Linked DNA regions of Homo sapiens: all the other regions are linked to region 1. Evidence: fine-mapped expression QTL. A gene starts in region 1. Each other region holds a variant in brackets. All regions are shown on one strand. Distances are from middle to middle.

Region 1 (2,766 bases):
GAGATAATACAAGGTTTGCAATGCCCTTATTGTTTTGAGACTGTAAGAGTAATACATTAAGTAAATTTCATTTAGCACAACAGTACTATTGTTAAATGGAGGGAAAAGATTCTGGTAAAAGGGAAGAAACTCCTGGCTTTAGTTTTCTAAAATGCTTTTGTACCTCTTGTAAGAATGACATGGAGGTGTTTTTAATGTCAAGTCTGAAAATTTGCTTTTCAATTTACTTGGAAACTGGTTTCTAATACAAAACAGGGTAGCACACTTTCCCAGCATGTTCAGGTAAACTACTTTCATCACAATTCAGGTAGAAGTGACTGCCTTTAATTCCGTACATCGCAAACCATCTAGTGGTAGATCTAGAATGGCGTCAGTCTCAGGGACTTCTATGCACATTGAGTTCCAGAGTTCAATTCCATTTAAGTTGGGACTATTTACAATGACATTTGCTGAAATTTGCTCACCTTGATATACAAGCATATTGTATTAAGCAGCTAGTAAACCTGTGGAGATAGCAGGTAAAACGTAAAGCCTGTTTTACGTTTTTTTAGAGGTGCATTACTTGTAGCATAACTAAACCTTCATTGTTAGGCAGGTGCTGGCCAATTACATCAGCAAGTCCTAACTCCGCTAGGATCGGGGTAAAGCCGATAAGCCGCATCATATCTACAACCTGTCTCGGACCCCTGTAAAGAACTCACTGAGGATTGGTAGGGACAAAGGGAAGTTTCTGTCAAAGTTTAGGAGAAAAGGGCCGCGCAGGGAGCTGTTTCAAATAACACTTAAATCCCAGGAGAAGAAAGCCGAACCCCAACTCTTCGGTCGCCGCGGGGCCAGGGAGACGCGAGAGGGAAGTTTTTCTAAAGGAAATCTGCCGCCTTGTCCCCAAGACCAGCGAGGTCCGCAGCGCCATCAGTCAAGTGTCGGCCTCTGGCATTTTCTCCTCTCCCCAGGGCGGGCCAACGCTAGTGGGCGGTGGATGATGCGCCGGCCCCAAGGGCGCGCACGTCCATTCCCGGAAGGCTCGGGCGCTGGGGCCCCTCTGCACTCCCAGCGGTCCCAAGTTGGCCCAGGCGCCCGGTCCCGGGGTCCTACAAGTCAGCGCCAAGCCGACTGCCGACAGCCTACCTCCGCTTCTCCGCGCGCCGGCGCTATGGAGACGGTCACGAGACGCCAGCAGCCCCTGCGCCCGCCAATGGGAACGCACGTTGCAGCGAGACGCGGACGTCGCTCTTCCAAGATGGCGGCGCGTCCGTCGCGAGCGACCGGGCCGAGGGGAGGCCAGCGAAGCCGAGTAAAACCGCCGCCCGGGAGAAGACTGAAGGAGCAGTTGCCGCCGTTGGCGGCGGCCCGAGCAGTTTTCGCTGCTGCTACGGCTGTTGCCATGAGGCGAGGCTAGGGAGGACCTCACTTCCCCGGGGTGTAATAATGTTAACTGAGGTAAGCGGCGACGGTGGCCAGTGTTTACCTGTGAAATGGGGAAGGGGCCGGCGCCAGCCCGTCAGAGAACATCATCTGTACGGAAGGTGGGCCTGACCCTTCGCCGTGGGCTCCAGGGCCCGAGGAGCAGCGGGGATCCTACAAGTGCCCTCAGAGTAGGAGCTGTGCTGACTCAACAGAGTCCCACCACCTCCGGCTGCCAGTGCCTCGCCTTTCGCAGTTGCCACTTGCCACTCGCCCCTGGCACTGGTCTCCCTCCTGCTGTCACTCCCTTCTAACTCATCGCTCCCTTCTTCGTGTCCCCTTACACGCTACTCTGTGGCAGCGTTGGCCTTTCCACGTTACTGCTGGTTCTTGTGATCCTATGGTTTGCCCTAGGTCTCCTTTCTCTGGTCCCTGGGCTCCAGGGCCCTCCGCCTCCGAGCTCGGTCAGCACCCTGGGGTTGTTGCTCGGCCCGACCGGTTTGTTTCCCACCCTCTACTTTGACTGCTTCATGAAGTGGACTTTTTTATCTCAAGCTGCACATGTATGGCTCAGTTGGGTCATCCCCCTCCCCCACATCCATCACCTTTTCGGTTAAATCGTGGTCATCACAAAGTTCAGTTTAGCATCTGCCACCTTGATTTGCGTGTGGCCCCCTTGTTACTCCCTATGGAATAGTTTTTTTCTTTGGACCTGAAATGGAAGTAGGGCAACTATGACGAACCAATCAATTTCCCTTTTCTAGTGCCTAATGGGCATTGCAAAAAGCCGACTTTTTGAAGAAGTAGAGTTTGCCTTTACTAGCAACACTTTAAGGGGAAGAACTAAATCGGTGCAACTAGGTACTTGACCCAGGTTAGCCCAGTTATGTGTTGTAGTATCTGCAGGTGTAGGTGTCACTGAACATAAAATACTGAACCTTGTGATTTGATGAAATACCTTTTTCGAAGCCTTTCACTTTAAGTACTGTGAGGATCCTGACGTGAGGAACTGACCGGATTGGGCATTTTTATGGGCTGAACTGAATAGGAAACAGTTTTAGTGGGCAATGGGAAGTATTCCTACATGGGCCAAAAAGGAAATACAAACATTTGTAGGTGAGTGGCTTTTATTTTGTGAAAAGTGATGGTAAAGCACGTACTTGCCTGAAATTTCAGGTCCTTGGAACGTGACTAACTTTGAGGAACTTTATACTTTGCTGTTTGTACTTAATCTAAGCACAGAGCCTGGCATATGATAAATACTTACTGGTTGATTGTAACTTCTACAGTACGTATTTTTAGTTGTTTGAAGTTCATTTTATATTTCTAAATTCTACAGATTTTTCATTCTTGGAGTTAATT
Region 2 (2,766 bases), 260 kb after region 1:
CTAAAATTCAACATGTCCTGCACTGAACTCATCGCTCACTCACACAATTAATATTTACTGAGCAGCTACTCTGTCCCAGGCATATACATCTCTGGAGATTCACTCTGGAGCAAATGAGAAATACACTGTTCCTACCTACATGGAACTTGTGTTCTGATGGGCGAGATGAGCAGAAAACAATACAGTATGTTGTCAGGAACAGATGAATGCATTGAAGAAAAATACCACTAATTAATCAAGGTAATGGAGGATGACGGTATTTGCATTTTAGGTGGGAGAGTCAAGGAAGCCCTCTCAGAGAGGTGGCCTGGAGCCCAGACTGTAGCAAGGTAAATAAGAGAGTCACGGGCTCTCTGCAGGGAGAGGTTCTAGGCAGAGGACTTTCTCCAGATTTGCTTCTCTGTCTACCTTCCACTTAGTTGCTCAGCCTAGGATGTTGGGTGTTTATGAATCCCTTCTTCACTCCCATGCCCCAAAGTCATAAGACTTATCATGTTTTTGACCTTAATCTCTCTTGAGGCTTTCCTCTTTTCTTTAGCTCCATTACCACTACTATACTTTAATCCATCCTTCAGTTGTTTTATTTTTCCCACCAGGATAACTGCCATGGACTCCAGAGAATCGTTCCCATACCCAGCCTTATCCTTTCAATTCTTCTGTTTTCCATAGTCATATGCCTGTTGCATTCATCTGATCCTCAACATTGCTCTTTGATAGCTCCCCCGAGCTTTCAAGATGAAGTGCAAACACCACTGCGCACACAGGGCTTTGATGATTTGGCCCTTACTTCTGTCTTGAACTTTATTTCTCTCTAAAGCAAGACTATTGCCTTGATCTCCTAGTTATGCTTAGCAATTTTTCAAATAAGCCGTATTTCTTTTTACTTCCAGAGTTTACACGCTGCTACTCTTCTTGAGAGAGACTTCCTCTGTTCTTCGCCTGAAAAACCCAGTCTCATCCTCTAAGATAGTTAAATGACCCTTGTTTCACTGCATCCTGTGTTACCTCTTTCAAAGGGCTTAACTATCCCAAGCATCTTGACATGTCTAGCTAATCCATTCCCAACTTATTTATCATGGAAGCCTCAGCATATGATTCATAATAGGTCCTTTACTGAATGTACAAAAAAATGTAAAATACAGACTTAGTATTCTTTATCTGAAATGCTTGGGAACAGAGTGTTTTGGATTTCAAAAGTTTTTGGATGTTGAAATATTTGCATGTACATAATGAGACGTCTTGGGGATGGAGTCCAAATCTAAACACAAAACTCATTTATGTTTCATAAACACTTTATATACATAGCCTGAGTGTAATTTTGTACAATATTTTAAATAATTTTGTGCAAAGTTTTGCCTGCATTTTGACTGAGACCCATCACATGAGGTTTGGTGTAAATTTTTCCACTTATGTTGTCATGTTGGTACTTAGAAAGTTTTGGATTTGTGAGCATTTTGGAGTTTTGGACTAGGGATGCTCAGCCTGTATACATTTTTATATTTTAATTTTCAATATTATTATAGAAATAAAAATGGCAATAGTTACAATACTTATTAAATGCTAAGTACTGTTTTGAATACTTTATATGTTTATCTCATATAAACCTCGTGACAGCTCCTTTGAAATAGTTGCATTGTCTCTATTTTACAGATGAAGAAAGTGAGGTAAAATAAATTTCCCAAGGTCATATATCAAA[C/G]CCAGGCAGACTGGCTCACAGTTCGTGTTCATAACCTCGATGCCTTGTTCCCTTTTTATAGCATTAGAAACAATTTCATGTTCTGGTAAATTTTTTTTTTAAATGTGTAGAATGATGTGTGAATTATACAGAAAGCAACCTTATTTCTTTAGAGTTATCCTTTATGTTTAACTACAATAGTTACTTCCCAAGGAAAGAAAGATTTCTCTAGGCTGGGAGAAAGGGGTAGAGATGAGAAAATAATTTCCCACATCAGTGGAAAAATGGCCTCACAGCAATCTGTAGACGTGAGAAAATGTGTGGATAGATGATGTGTAACCAGAGGGCCTCTTCTACCCTCAAGATATCTTGGACCTGCATAGAATCTTGGAAGCACGCCACAGACCCATGTTGGTATTGGTGGACAGGGAACCTTAATGACTGAGTTAAATTTTCTACCTGCATGGCCCAATGGGAGCTTATAATAAAATTAAATTATTTTACGGAAAATGTACAGTTGCAAATGTTCTTACACACATAGTTGAGTTTATAGTGATTTTTATACCCTTCTTACATCCTTTAGAGAGCTGTTTTTCTCTAAATGTATCCACGCCTTCTATGAATTGGTCTTTTCAAAAAGGTTGTTGACTGAGGAAAATTTCTAACACAACAATCTGGCCCGTTCCCAAATTGGGCAAAGCCATCCTTGGAGAGCAATTAATGTCTGACCTCTGGTCTTAGAATGAGAGGGGAATGTGTTTATAAACATGAAATTTAAAATGAAATATCAGGTGAGTGTAATCAGAATTGTTGAAAGGACCCAATTCAGAGAGATTTAGTCTGTTTCTTGATAACCTCTGAAGTCCAAGAATTGCAAAAGGCTTTAATAAGTAGTAGATCTCATGTAAAATCAATAATTGTGGTTGTCTGTGGCCTCCAGTAAAATTTCATTAGTGTTCGTTTTCACTAGTGTAAGCATCTCTTTGGTGCACCATGTATTCCATGGTCACTATTTAAATAGTGAGGCACTAACACTGTATTTGAAGCACACATCAGAAAGCCAGTGGGTATGGGATTTTGACTATAGGCTA
Region 3 (2,766 bases), 95 kb after region 1:
CTTTTAAAATTTAGATATTTTGTTTGCAAGCCTGTCAATTCCATTTTGAATACAAGCTTTATTTTTTAATGAGCTCAGATCATACAGTGTTTTCCTTTGTAAGTAAACTCAGAATCCCCACGGATTTGCAGTTATATAGCCATGTTACTTATCTTGAAATCTTAGAAACCTTTATCCTCAGCGAATTTTCCTTCCATCCTGTATCTGTGGAGCCGCTGCTGGGCAGGAGAAAGAGGTGATACAATTTGAAGAAGGGAGACTTAGTAGGAATCATGTGCTGCCTCTAGATTGCTCTCTACCAGACATCTAAAGTCAGTTAGCTGTTATTATTCAGTACTTACATGAAGGAAAATACAAATTATAGAGATGGATTTGTTTTTTTTTTTAATTCTCTACATTTTCCTTTATTTACCACCTATGCTTAATTTAGTATCTGCCTCTGAATATGGCAGCCTACTTCATTTACAGTAAACCTGCCTATCTTTCTTTTTTAAATAGAGGGTTCTGAAATATGAATTTGGGAATATAGAGAAGCCAGTGAAAATAAATAATTCATGGAAACATCATGGCTCTTATTGGAAAGGGCAGCAGCATTTGAAAACATGTAGTCATACTTACCGGCTTTGTGACTTAATAGGCAACCTTTTTCATCTTCGTTTTCCTTGTCTGTTAAGTAGACGTGGTGATACATATCCAACAGGATTGCTGTGCGGATTAAATGAAGTAATATCTGTAATGTAACTAGCCCAAAGCCTGATACGTAGATGCTCTTTAAATTTTGGACGCAATTTTTCCCTTTTTTTTTTTCATATGTAGGTTGTTTCCTTGCTCTGTGACTTTGAAAAGTATGTCTGAAATTCACTGTTTAGAGAGTCTGGAAAAAAAACACATTTTATCTAATAATTAGAGATTTTACTGAGTTAGGAGCAAAATTACTCTTTAGGCATATTTTGTTTTCCTAGTAGTAAATAGACTTTATACATGAAAATGTTGAGTTTTTAAAATTCTTGCGTATATTAACCATTTCCTTCACCCTTTTAGCCTTTGGAATGTTCATTTTCATTTGGAATATATAGAGATAGAGAATAATTGAAAATATAGTGATTTCTATTTATTTTATATTGAAACAGTTGAATGCTATTATTTTTAATGTGTTAATATTTTTAATTTGCTAAGCAACTCTTAACTAGGAATTTAAATTCACACA[A/G]TGTATATCTATTGGGAAACAACATGCATGAGAAGGGAAAAACTTCATCTTTACTCCGTTTTAGCTTGATTTTTTTCCTTATATTTATGTACACATCTTTAACAATGAATGATTAGATAAAATATTAACTTATATTCACTTTTGCCTGTAGGAAATAAATACTGTGAAACTTGCAGCAAACTTTGGGAAACTTTGCACAGTCCCCCTGGACAGCATTCTTGTAGACAATGTTGCACTACAATTTTTTATGGGTAGGTAGATCAATTCTATTTAAATGATACAGCCATTGAATTTCTTTTTCGATTTTTTATTGTAAAATACACATAAAATTTAGTATCTCAACTATTTTTAAGTGTATAGTTCAGTGATATTAAATGTATTCATGATGTTGTACAGAGTCTCCAGAACTGTTTTTATCTTCCAAAACTGAAACTCTACTCATTAAACACCAACTCTCTCCATTCCTCACACTCTCAACCCCTGCAACCATCATTCTGCTTTCTGTCTCTATAATTTTGACTACTCTTAAGTACCTCACGTAGGTGGAATTGTACAGTATTTGCCTTTTTGTGACTGGCTTACTCACTTAACGTGGATATGCCCTCAGGTTTTATCCGTGTTATAGCATATGTGAGAATTTCCTTCCTTTTTAATGCTGAATAATATTCGTGTGTGTGTGTGTGTGTGTGTGTACACACACGCACACACTTGCTTCTCCCCTTACCTCTTCTCCCCTCCCTCCACTTTTCCTAATTTCTCTGCCTAGTACTTCCAGTACTATGTTGAAACGAAGTGGCAAACACAGGCATCTTTGTCTTGTTCCTGATCTTAATCTTTTTGTTCCTGATCTTAATCTTTGTCTTGTTCCTGATCTTAAAGAAAAGTATTTTGTCTTTCATCATTGAGTATATTATTCACTGTGGGATTTTTCAGATACAGCTTTTATTATTTTGAGATAGTAGCCTTCTGTTCCTAGTTTATTGAGTGTTTTTGTCATGAAAATGTGTTGAATTTTGTGATATGCTTTTTGTGCATCAATTAAGATGTGGTGTTTATCCTTCATTCTGTTGTGCTGTATTAGACTGATTTTTTTTTTTTTGTATGTTCAACCATCTTTGGATTCCAGGAATAAATGCCACCTTAGTCATGGTGTATAATTTCTTTAATATGCTGCTGAATTTGTTTTGCTAGTATTTTATGGAGGATTTTTACATCTATATTTATAAGGAACATTGGTCTGTAGTTTTCTTGTACTATCTTTATCTGGTTCTGTTTTCAGGATAATGCTGGCCTCATAGAATGAGTTAGGAAGTGTTTCCTGTTTAATTTTTTGGAAAAATTTAAAAAGGATTGGTGTTACTTTTCTTTAAATGTTTGATAGAATTCACCAGTAAAGCTATTCAGGTCCAGGTCTTTTCTTTATTGACGATTTTTGGTTACTGATTCATTCTCCTTACTACGTTATCAGTCTCCTCAGATTTTCAATTCCTTCATGATTTAGTTTTGGTGGATTTTCTGTTTCTAGGAATTTTTCCATTTCCACTAGGATATCCGATTTA

Direction of the effects. Positions count from the first base shown, and alleles are read on the strand shown. Sizes are in standard deviations (SD) of each study's normalised expression.
In carriers of allele G in region 2, the expression in fibroblasts of the gene that starts at base 1,230 in region 1 tends to be higher than with C alone (small effect, 0.20 SD a copy in GTEx).
For the expression in atrial appendage of the gene that starts at base 1,230 in region 1, A is the low allele of the variant in region 3 and G is the other (small effect, 0.31 SD a copy in GTEx).

What was found. PIP is the estimated chance that this variant, and not a neighbour inherited with it, causes the effect.
Region 2: its variant is the best candidate, but not a certain one, in a credible set for the expression of SNX13 in fibroblasts (GTEx, PIP 0.75).
Region 3: its variant is the best candidate, but not a certain one, in a credible set for the expression of SNX13 in atrial appendage (GTEx, PIP 0.75).

What each region holds. Positions count from the first base shown.
Region 1 is chr7:17,938,958-17,941,723 of GRCh38, reverse strand. SNX13 (sorting nexin 13) reads left to right here and starts at 1,230. Exons shown (of 26, transcript NM_015132.5): 1 at 1,230-1,440. The coding sequence starts at 1,429.
Region 2 is chr7:17,675,950-17,678,715 of GRCh38, reverse strand. No RefSeq gene overlaps it. Among named protein-coding and RNA genes, the nearest start is that of LINC02889, 120 kb to the right of the region's middle. The variant C/G (reference allele first, on the strand shown) is at 1,697.
Region 3 is chr7:17,844,287-17,847,052 of GRCh38, reverse strand. SNX13 (sorting nexin 13) reads left to right here. Exons shown (of 26, transcript NM_015132.5): 12 at 1,359-1,458. Among named protein-coding and RNA genes, the nearest start is that of SNX13, 95 kb to the left of the region's middle. The variant A/G (reference allele first, on the strand shown) is at 1,208.